Regions from separate parts of the Homo sapiens genome. Here region 2 is linked to region 1. The links come from fine-mapping of genetic effects on gene expression. A gene starts in region 1. The other region holds a variant in brackets. All regions are shown on one strand. Distances are from middle to middle. Region 1 holds the start of TMOD2 (tropomodulin 2). Region 2 overlaps SCG3 (secretogranin III).

Evidence for each region. PIP is the estimated chance that this variant, and not a neighbour inherited with it, causes the effect. A credible set is the group of variants that fine-mapping cannot tell apart.
Region 2: its variant is the best candidate, but not a certain one, in a credible set for the expression of TMOD2 in whole blood (TOPMed, PIP 0.73).

Annotation. Positions count from the first base shown.
Region 1 is chr15:51,748,462-51,753,839 of GRCh38, forward strand. It overlaps TMOD2 (tropomodulin 2), which reads left to right and starts at 3,136. Exons shown (of 10, transcript NM_014548.4): 1 at 3,136-3,251. It also overlaps a transcript of LYSMD2 not described here. RefSeq lists an enhancer at 2,690-2,759 and silencers at 2,870-3,299, 3,350-3,459, 3,490-3,549.
Region 2 is chr15:51,711,698-51,717,075 of GRCh38, forward strand. It overlaps SCG3 (secretogranin III), which reads left to right. Exons shown (of 12, transcript NM_013243.4): 11 at 1,636-1,716. Among named protein-coding and RNA genes, the nearest start is that of LYSMD2, 23 kb to the right of the region's middle. The variant C/T (reference allele first, on the strand shown) is at 2,453.

The sequences.
Region 1 (5,378 bases):
AAGCAGTCTTTCAGTCCATCCAAAGAATGTACTTTCACATTTCATCTTTAACACTTAGGATGCTTTCAGCTTCAAGTAACAGAAAACTCCATCTCAAATTGACTCAACAATAAGGTTATTTATTATCTCATATAACAAGAAATCCAGAAGAAGGGCAGCACTGGGGCTGGTTGATGACTGACTCAACAACAATATGGCCGACCCAGATTCATCGTATCTCTTTACAATGGCCAGAACTGGGTCACATGTCCACTCCTAAACTCTTACAGGCCAGTTAAGAGGATTCTATTCCTCTTGTCTATGATAGATTTGAGAGTGTACCTCTCAGAGGCTAATAGGGTCACCTTTCCTAATGTGTAAACACCCATATAGGCTTCTATAAAGAAGAAGAGGGTGGACTGAATGTTTAATAGACAACCAACAGTGTCTACTACCTGTTCCTAATGAGGTGTGCTACATATTCCACTGTGAATAATTAAAATACTTCATTATAACTGCCACGTTGAACTTTTTTCCTTTCTGCCATTTGACAATTACAGTCAATATATCAGCTTCCTCATTTACAGGAAGAAATGGCTACACAAAATGATATGTAAGGTCCCTTCCAGCTCCAGGAGTTCTGTTTCAATTTTACATTTTCATCTTCTAAAAAGCAAGTAGAAAAGTTAAACTTACAAGATATGGTCCAGAAATGATCATGGGTTTCAACTGATAAGTCATAGGCATATTGACATCCTTTCTTCCTTAAGATAAGACATAGGCAATAGATTTAAAGAGCTAAACAGACTGGAACTGGTAATATCTTTCCATTAAGTTTTAACATTAGGTTAAATGTTCTACTTCCCTCACTCATCCTTTAACACCTTCCAGCTTCCAACACTCATCATACAGACAGAGACTGATCAGAAGTTTCTTTTCACAACTCACTTTATTTTGGTGTCAGCATCCTCCTGGAGCATGGCTCTGGGGCTGTAGGATAGCTCTTGTATCTCTGCTTCGACTGCCGAACATGACTTTAACTTAAATCATTCCCCTGTCTGCTTCCTTTCATGGCTAGTTTCTGAAGGAATACTCTATTCGTTTTATCACATGCAGCCATTTTCCTCGTGCAGAACCACGGGAAACCAAAGAGAAATACTGTACACTACTGAGCACCTTTGCTACTCTTTCTTCCAATATGAATGAAATTGCTTTATTATTTTCAGCATATGCCTACTATCAGCTTTCTCTGGGAAAACTGCTGGCTCGATCCGTAAGCAGCCCTGTTCTTATTTAACAGAAGGCTATGACTGTAACAAATGTACAACATAAAAAAGTCAAAGGCATCCTGTCGGTTACACAGGACATTCGGAATAACAAATGTACAGGAAAACTTGGGAACATGACTTAAAGTAATTTGGTCACACCCCCATTTCATTTAACTCTTTCTGGCTCAGATTTGTCATTCTGACAGGAGGCCCAAGATATAGTCCATTACCACAATTGATCATAGAAACAACACTGGTCTCTCAGTCAGCAGCCACTGCGTGCCAGTGTTCATCATGCTAGTTCCCAGAGTTTTAGAGGATTAACTTTACTTTCTGGTTCAACCCATCTGCTGGGGAAGGTATGGCCCTATTTTGCAATGTGCAAAAGGGAGACAGTGCTGGGGGTGCCCACAGTGGAAGGAGAGAAGACAGGCTTACTGAACACCCCTATGACCTTGAATAAGTCACATCACCTCTCTGTGCCTCTTATTAACTATCATTGGGGAAAAATACCTTCACTCTGCCTGTCTCACAAGGGTTCTTGTAAAAATCAAATGAGAACACAAATAGGAAAGTATTTTCATAAATGCAAACCAGTGTTATCATTTTCAGATGTGGAATTTCCTCTGCAGCACGTTTTTTTGGCCACACGATTACTGCACACCTCGTGCCAGACAGACTATAAAGCTGTTTCACCTCTTTTCACATTTTGCCTAAAATTTCATATAGAGATTACACCAGCCATGCTGCATCCATCCCTTTGGTTCATTTTCCTCCACTACATCTGTGAATGCAAATCCCACCATCATGTGAAACACTGCATAGCAGCAACTTGCAAAACTCAACGAACCTTAGACTGCCAAGATAAGTCCCATAAGCAAAGGTTATGCTCAAAATATGCTGCAAAAGTTCAAGAAGGAGAGAGATATCACATCTAATTAGAAAAGGCCTCTGGAAGTTAAATCTAGATGCCATGTATTTTCATAATGTTGGTCTTTGTCCTATGTCACCCCACTCTGCTGTCATGCTTCAGAAACTTGACTTTATTTTCTCTATCTTTGGAGCTCTCAAGAACCTGGCAGACAGAACATCTCAGGGTATATTCAGGGATGAAGTGAACGGGCTCAACGACTAACAAACCCAGTGGATTTTAACATTTACCCAGCCCAACGAGGTCCAACTATCTTTAGGTTAGCACGACATATAGGACTTTCCCGGCCCAAGAACTCCCTCGGAAACCCCAAGGAAGGAACTTTCACTGAGTATGCACTAAGTGCCAGATCCTAAGTGCTATGGGTCGCTTAATCCTCACAACACTTTTTCAAGCTTGAAGCCTGTTTTACAGATGAGGACGCGAAGGCTCAGACAGGCTAAGTTGTCCGGTCTCACCTCAGTGAAGCCGCCACTGCGCTTGGGCTCTCCAGCCCCTCACGCCATCACCCTAGAGCCTTGCTAACTTCCACCTCGCTTACCTCCTTCCCTCCCTAGGCTGCCAACCCAACTACTCTCTCCTCCCACGCCCACGCCCAGCCAGGAAAACCTGGGGCGGGCGGGGTCTGTACCTGAGACCGCTCTCAACGCGGCTTCCGTGTCAGGATGCTCGCTCACAGGAATGCTCATCACAGGCTTGAAAGCCTTTGCCATCCACGCTCTCCGGAGCCCCGAGCGTCTCCAAAGAGCCTGCCCAGGCTTCTCCCCGACCCAGGTGCTTCCTCCCCTGCAGAGCTGTGGCGGGGTTCAGACCCCGATTCCGGGAGAGGACACCTGTCGGGGAAGGGCGGGGCTGGGGGACTGCGGGGCCGCGGCGAGGCTCAGCCGGGAACTACGCTTCCCAGCCTGCTCCGCTGCAGCCGCGCGCCCCGGCGCCGCGCCCGGCCGGGAGCCGCCTGTTGATCGCCGCGCTCGCCCCGGCCACGGCGCCGCCCCTGTTCTCCCGGCCCCGCTCCACCGGGGCTGACGGACTGACGGCCAGCACAGCCGGCTCCGGGATGAGCGCACGGACGGGTGAGCGCCCCGGGGGGCGGGTGGGGCCTGTTCTGGACAGCCGGTGTCTGCAGCCCCCGGGCCCGCAGCGCGGTGGCCGCCGTGCCCTCCCTGCCCGCGGGAGGATGCTCCGCGACATGGGCGGTCGGCCGGGCGGGCGTGCAGAGCCGGGCCGCCTCTCGCCTCTCGCCTCCCGGCCCGGTCGGCTGCGCCGGGAGACCAGGCGCTGCGCCCGGGCGGGAGGCGCCCGCCGGGGTGTGAGTCCCGCGCCCCGCACTGCGGTGCCGCAGCCTCTGCAGCCCGCTGGGCCGCAGCGGGGAGGGCGCGGTCTCCTGTCCTCCCGGGCTGCGGGGCTGTGTTCTTCCACTCCGGGCTTTGTTCCCCCACTTTTCCCCTTCCTGTGCATGTTTGGTGAGCTCCTGGAGCGGTATGCATCTCCCTGCCTCGTTCAGCAGGCGATGGGGAGGGGTGGACTGGCCGGCGTCTTTCCTGAGATCGCTGGAGCTGTCACTCGCAGGGCGTTTCAGCCTCCCAGTAAGCGGCCTCGTGCGGATCCTCGAGAACCTTATTATTATTGTTATTACTTTTCTGGTTAAAGTAATTGTAGTATGTGCTCCCTTGAGGCTTCCTAAATGTTCCCTGTTGACCTGCGGAAATGAAGGTGGATTTTTAAAACAGTAATAAAAGGCTTCTAATGGGAATTTTTAGAGTATTCAGAGGTAGGAAGGTGATGCCGTCACAATGCAAATTAGCAGTGAAGGAGGCCGTGCTTACTGCAGCTTCGTCTGTGCCCATTACATATCTGAATCACGAGGCATTTAGGACGGGAATGAAAAGAAGATCGGGGGAGGTGTTTTAAAAACCAGGTTCTCCTCTTAGCTTGACCATTCAGGAGCTGAGGGACCTGGGCAAGTCCCTCCACCTCTCTGGGCCTCTGCATGTAAAGGGGCGTTTGGGCTAAATGATTTGTAAACCTCTGTTCTTCCAAGATTCTCCCCTCTCAGGGAACTGAAAAGATGAGAGTGTTTCTGTTTAACAGCACTACAAAAAGCCTAATTGTGACAACAAGCGCCTCTACCCTAGTGAGGAGGAAAGATTTTTCAGAGCTTCAGCAATCTGATTTTTTTTTAAAGATAAAACTGATTTTCTCGATCGACTCTCTTCAGTCTAACCCAATAAATACGCATTGCAATCATTTTAATTTTTGTAAGGTACTGTACATTGGTGGGCAACAAAATGATGGGGTTTGTTTTTGTCTTTAATTTGCTGAAGGTGAAGTGATGGGATCAGCAGATAAAGGATTAGTGGCTCCCTAGGGCTGGGCACGAGTGGTCAAATGTGGTCAGCATGGAGGTCGGGGAGGAAGCCCCAGCAAGAAGTAACCAGAATGTGTATACACAGAAAAGAGAAGTTGCGTACTGATGGATCATTGTTTGAAAAAGAAATATGCAATAGAAGGAATGAGAGAATCAGGAACTCGGCGCTCTGCAAACCTAACATAACAGTTGAATAAGGCAAGGACTTACCAACTGGTCCAAAACCTTTGAGTGAAAGGTGGTTGGGGAATAGGATTTTCATATTATTTCAAAGTATCTCACCACAGTTTACTCTGGGAAAATTTGTCCTTACAATGGAGAAATTAGGAGGTCACCACTGGAACCAAATGACCAAGTTTAGCAGCATCTACTGCGAGTCTCCCGTTGTGAAGCAATAAGGAGGCATAATTTCACCTCTGTAGTGTTCCTGCAAAAAGACTTGGCGATGGGGCAGAGCAAATGGGAGCAACTATTGTAGGTTAAAATACTCAAGTGATACAATAGTGAATTGGGATGTGTGAACTTTGAATCCTAGATGCAAAAAAAAAAGCTATAAAAGACAATTTGGAGATAGTTGGGGATGTTTGAATATGGATTGCATGTTAGATGATATTATGGAATTGGTGTTAATTTTCTTAGGTGCAATAATAGTTCATTCTTGTGGTTACCTAGACCAGACAATCCTTATTCTTTGGAGATGTGGATATTGGAGGTGAAGTGTCATGACATCTGCAACTTTCAGCTGTGTCAGAAAAAAAAAAAAAAGGATAGGGGTAGCAGAACAAGTTCAGGAACGTAGCAAATGTGGCAGAATGATGACGGTTGGTGAATC
Region 2 (5,378 bases), 37 kb before region 1:
TGGTCTTGAACTCCTGGCCTCAAACAATCCTCCCTCTTTGGCCTCCCAGACTGCTGAAATCAAGGAAGTTTCTACACCAACTATTGAAGTAAATAAGGACTAAAAATTGTGGATCTCTTCTGGTGTCCATTTACCCCTTTTTGTGTAGTAGTCTCTGTGCTTCTTTGGGGACCAGATGACACAGATCTTCGGTGGTAAGGCAAGAGTGGGCTTCAAGATCAGGAAGAAAGATGCTCAGAGAGTCACTTAGGTAAATACAGTGCGGGCAATTGGAACATGGGCAACTCTTAGGGCAGTGTTATTGTACATGGACTGTAGTTGGAGGTACCCAGGTTCAAGCCTGGCTCTGCTACTTGTTAGTCATGTGATTATGACTTTATGTCTCTGTGCTTCAGTGTCTTCATCTGTAAAATGGGGATGATAATAAGACTGCCTCAAAAAGTTGTCGTGAAGAATAAATGAGACAATGCATTTTGGAGCATAAAGCAGTCCCCAGTACATGATAAGCACACAGTACAGGTAGCTCAACCAAGAGGGCTGTGCAGTAGAGTAGAGGTAAGAGGGCTCAGATGGGGCTCAGAATGGGGTGGTCACCACACTGAGCTCTGCAGCTATTGCTTCTGCAGAGGCCCTGGACTTTGAAAGCCTCTTTTTGTAAGCCATCTGGTACTTTCTAGAGCACCTGGTTTCTTGGTGCTGACTCCCTAAGCTTTAGGGCCTCACCTGGTTAAGAGAGTGGCTGATTTTTTTGATATAGAACAAAGCAACATTACTGTCCATGTCTGAAGGTGAGGTCTTATCCTGCAGGGAATGCAGGTAGCGGAAGCTAAGCAGATCAGAGTCCAAATGCCAGCTGTTATTTCCTGTGTAGCCTTAGCCTACTCACTTCGCCTCTCTGAGCCCCAGATTCCTCATCTCTCAGTGGATGGTAATATCCGCTTGCAGACATCAGTACAGGTAAAGGGCATCACAGAGTAGGTGCATGAGTGATGCCTGGTATTCTCATGCCACACTTGAGGCCCATCGAACAGTGTTTACATCCTGGGGAGTTTTATTAGAGCCAGTTCTAAGGTTTGCCATCCAAACCTTGAAGTGAGGCACTGGTCGCCTCTTTGTCTAAGTTTTTGCCCGCCCCCTGCCAGAATTGGGCAGAAGACTTAGAGCTGCTTACACAAAGCCACACATTTGGACTTTTAACTGAAGTGATGGAATCTTTAAGTATCTGCCACTCTCATTCAAGTCCTTGGCTTGATGATGCTCCTCAGTTTGGAAGAACCATCCCTAACCAGAAATGAACTAATCTAAGGACCCATCTATCTAGTAAACTGAATCAAAACTCTTCTCTGCCAGGACATCAAGGTGGATTTATTTGTGTGTGGGAATCATGCCCCTTGACACTTACCAACTTGATTCTTCCTCCTGGAACCTCATCCGCACCTGCTCTCCTTGACCTAAACCCCTCAACACACAAACACACATAGACACATACAAATATGTACATTACCTAGTTAGGGAAACAACCTTGCAAATGCTGCATAAGTCTAATATTTGTGGTTCTGAACATACGTGTGGTCTTTAAAATGAGATGTAGTGATATTTCCTGAGTGTTTGATATAGTTCTCTTACCTCTTCCAGGAAAAACAGAAGCCTATTTGGAAGCCATCAGAAAAAATATTGAATGGTTGAAGAAACATGACAAAAAGGGAAATAAAGAAGGTAGGACCAAGTGTGGTTGTACATTGCAAACTTCACCCATTTGTCAGGGGCTCTTGTTATATAAAAATTCCCACAGTCAAATTGACTGTGCTAAAGTCTCCCCGCAGAGCCCAAAAAAGACTGAAGTCACCTGTCAGATACAGAGGGGAACAGAACCTCCATTTCTCTTATTATTCAAATTAGCCTTTCAAGCAAAGGCGTTTTCTTTTCTTTTACGTTTTATTAGGAAAAATGTCAAGCAAACGTAGAACGAATAGCATAATGGATCCCTGTGTCTCCAGCACCCATCTTCAATAATTATCAAATGTTGCCAGTCTTGTTTTATCTAGCCCCCCTTTCTTGGAGTATTTTAAACAAAGGCATTTTCTGAGCACAAATTTTGTGCACCCTGCAGTCACAAAAGCAGTCACTCGCTTACATAAAGCAAAACACAGAACCAGGCCCTGTTCTAAGTGCCAGAGATGTCCCGCCCAAGGAATGCACAGCGTCATTAGAGCTATGGTTGGCCCTGCTCAGTGATGTCATGGATAGGTGTGTTACTGCCAAGGAGGTGAGAAGATGGGATGGATCTTCATACTAGGACAGAGACAGTTGAGAGAAGGGCCACAAGTCTTCTCTGGAAAGTTAAGGATGAATCTGCCGAGTGAGGAGAGATGGAGGCAGAGCGAACACTAGGTACCAAGACATAAAGGGACAAAACAGAGGGGTGGTTCTGGGAACTGGAGCCATTCATGTC[C/T]CCAGGAACAGTGGATGTTTGTGGAGAAGAGCAGCATATAGGGTTGGGAAGTGGGCAGTAGCCATGCCAGGAAGACATTTATGTACTCTTCAGAGAAGGTTGGTTTTAGCCAAGGGAGCCTAAATTGGGGCCTAATTAGGTTAAGAGCTGAGAAATCCATCTGGCAGCAGTGTGACTACAGATTGAAAAAATAAGACCCCAGAAGGCAGCAGAGAGATAAGGAGGTAAGACAGAGAGATCTGGAGCAGAAATATGGGGCTGTAAACCAGGGGACAACAGAGGAGATAAAAAGGAAGGGAGGAACTCAAGAGCCATGTGGAGAAGGAGGATTCTGACACGATTCCCAGGTATCTGGCCAGAGCAGTTGCAAAGTGATGCCTTCCTAAGAAACAAGTAATGCTTCTCAAACTTTAAAGTGCATCCAAATCACCTGGGGAACTTCTTAAATATCCCACTGCCCAGGCTGCACTGCAGCACCACTAAATCAGAAATTCTGGGGACACAGCTCTGGCATCAGTATTTTTTCAACTCCCCAGGTTATTCCAGCGTGCAGCCAAGTTTGCAAACCGCTGAGATACAGCACAGAGGGAGAAAGAGGTATTTTCAGCACCCTGGTAGCTTAGGTCTTCTAAGTTGAGTGATGATGGCAATAATTATCGATGTTCATGCATACTTTATTTGGTTCAAAATGATTTGAATTTCCAGGCTGTCAGTTACATTAAAATCTACATGAACCATATTTCATCGAATCTGTCATTGATTAAAAATGCACCATTGTTTTATGTGCCATTAAATTACAACATGCCATCAATGACTGCAAAGACTTTAAAATTAAAATGTTCATCTTAGAATCACTGTAGTACACTGTGTGCCAAAATACATCCCAAAGCCATGATAAATTGTATGGTACATCAATTTGGAGTATTTGTTACTGTTTTCACTGATTAGCATATGAATCAGACTCCTGGTCATAATCAACAACATCTTGCAATTCAATGTTCCCATTCCAGAAATGACCAACCTGGTGAAGCATAGAACTCTGGTGCTTGCATATGGAAGGCTCTGTTAGCAAACTGGCATTGGGTTCGATGCTCCCTTTTGTCTCTGGGAAATATGCAGTATGCCCTCTTGAAGACAGAAACAGAGCTCTTTCTCCACTGCTCTCATATGCGCTCGGCTTGACTTGGGGTCATCTTCTCAAAGCCTGTGGGGGATCTGGGTCCTAGGGTCATGCAGTGGCTGCAGCTGTATAAGCAGGGAGAATTACTATTAGTTCTGACCTTTCTTAACCATTGTTGCCACCCTTTGTTTGGTAAGGGACTGGGTGACCTGAATCCCCTTCCCAAACCCAGGAAAGGGAGGTCCATGTGATGTGATAGTGAGGATAATGAGAAAATCTTATGTAGCCTTAAAAAAATATGCTTTTAAAAAGCGAATCACAGCCCTTCTCTCCTTTGAGCCTTACAACCTTAAAACTTCTTTTAAGGTTAGCAAGATGGCTACTGGCTTATGTCTCCTAACCCCCAGCTAGGGCAGAGTTGGCATTAGACCAAAGGGCCTTTCCTTTGCACCATGCTGGTTTTCCCACTGCACACAGTAATAGCCGTGTCATAAAGATAACAATTTTTCCTTTTCAAAAGAAAGCAAAATATTTGCCTGTTTGTCCATTCAAATCACTGGACCTCTTCACATCTGTCTTTGGGAGTCTGCACTTTTTTTTTTTTTTGAGACAGAGTCTCGCTCTGTCGCCCAGGCTGGAGTGCAGTGGCACGGTCTCCGCTCACTGCGAGCTCCGCCTCCAGGGTTCACGCCATTCTCCTGCTTCGGCCTCCCAAGTAGTTGGGACTACAGGCACCCGCCACCATGCCTGGCTAATTTTTCTTATTTTTAGTTGACATGGGGTTTCACCGTGTTAGCCTGGATGGCCTCAATCTCGTGACCTCCTGATCCGCCTGCCTCGGCCTCCCAAAGTGTTGGGATTACAGGTGTGAGCCACCGCGCCCAGCAAGGCAGTGGTTTTCAAACTTTGATGCACATTAAAATCACTTAGCGGGAGTCTGCCTTTTATTCCATTAAAGATGTTGACACTGCAGCCTATTCTGCAGAGGCAGTATTAATGAACCAGGAATAAACAAGAAGTGCCCTTTGTGCCTTAGGGGTCAGGAATAAAGGAATCATCGCCTTAGGTGCGGTGCCTGCAAAATGTATGTTCAGCTTCGTTCTCTACTTCGTGCCTGAGAGAATGGGAAAAGTGAAAAACAAAAATAAAAATGAGCATTTATTGAACATTTGCTTTGTACCTGTTAGATGTTTTATAGTCAGTACTACAAGGCTATGGAATGGTCAATCAATGACCAGCATTCAGAACCTGACTCTACCACTACCTGAGCAAGTAACTTACCCCCTTTTCTGTTTCTTCATCTCTGAAATGAGGATACTAATGCTTACCCATGAGTGTGGAAAAAGCAACAATGTGCTTTCTCCTGTTCTCTCACTCAACACAACAATCAACACAGAAGACTTCTGTGACCAAATGCGTGGGGGTTTCTCCCCACCACCAAGCAAGCAATCAATTCTGCAGCCGACACTAGCTGGTTGTCCGCTGATTCAATTCAATTCCAACACTATCTACTTAGAGTCAGCCTCAGACACCACAGGGTGAGGGCGCAGTCCCAAAAGAGTGCCCCTTCCTTTGCACCAGTTGCATGTCCAGGCCTCTGGAACAGCTGGCTGACTGGCTTCAAGTTTCGGTTTCCACAGCCTCCTCTTAGGGTTCAGTTAATTTGCTAGAGTGGGCCTGGTATGGTAGCTCACACCTGTAATCCCAGCACTTTGGGAGGCCAAGGTGGGAGGATCACTTGAGGCCAGGAGTTTGAGACCAGCCTGGTCAACATAGCGAGACCCCATCTCCACAAAAAATTTAAAA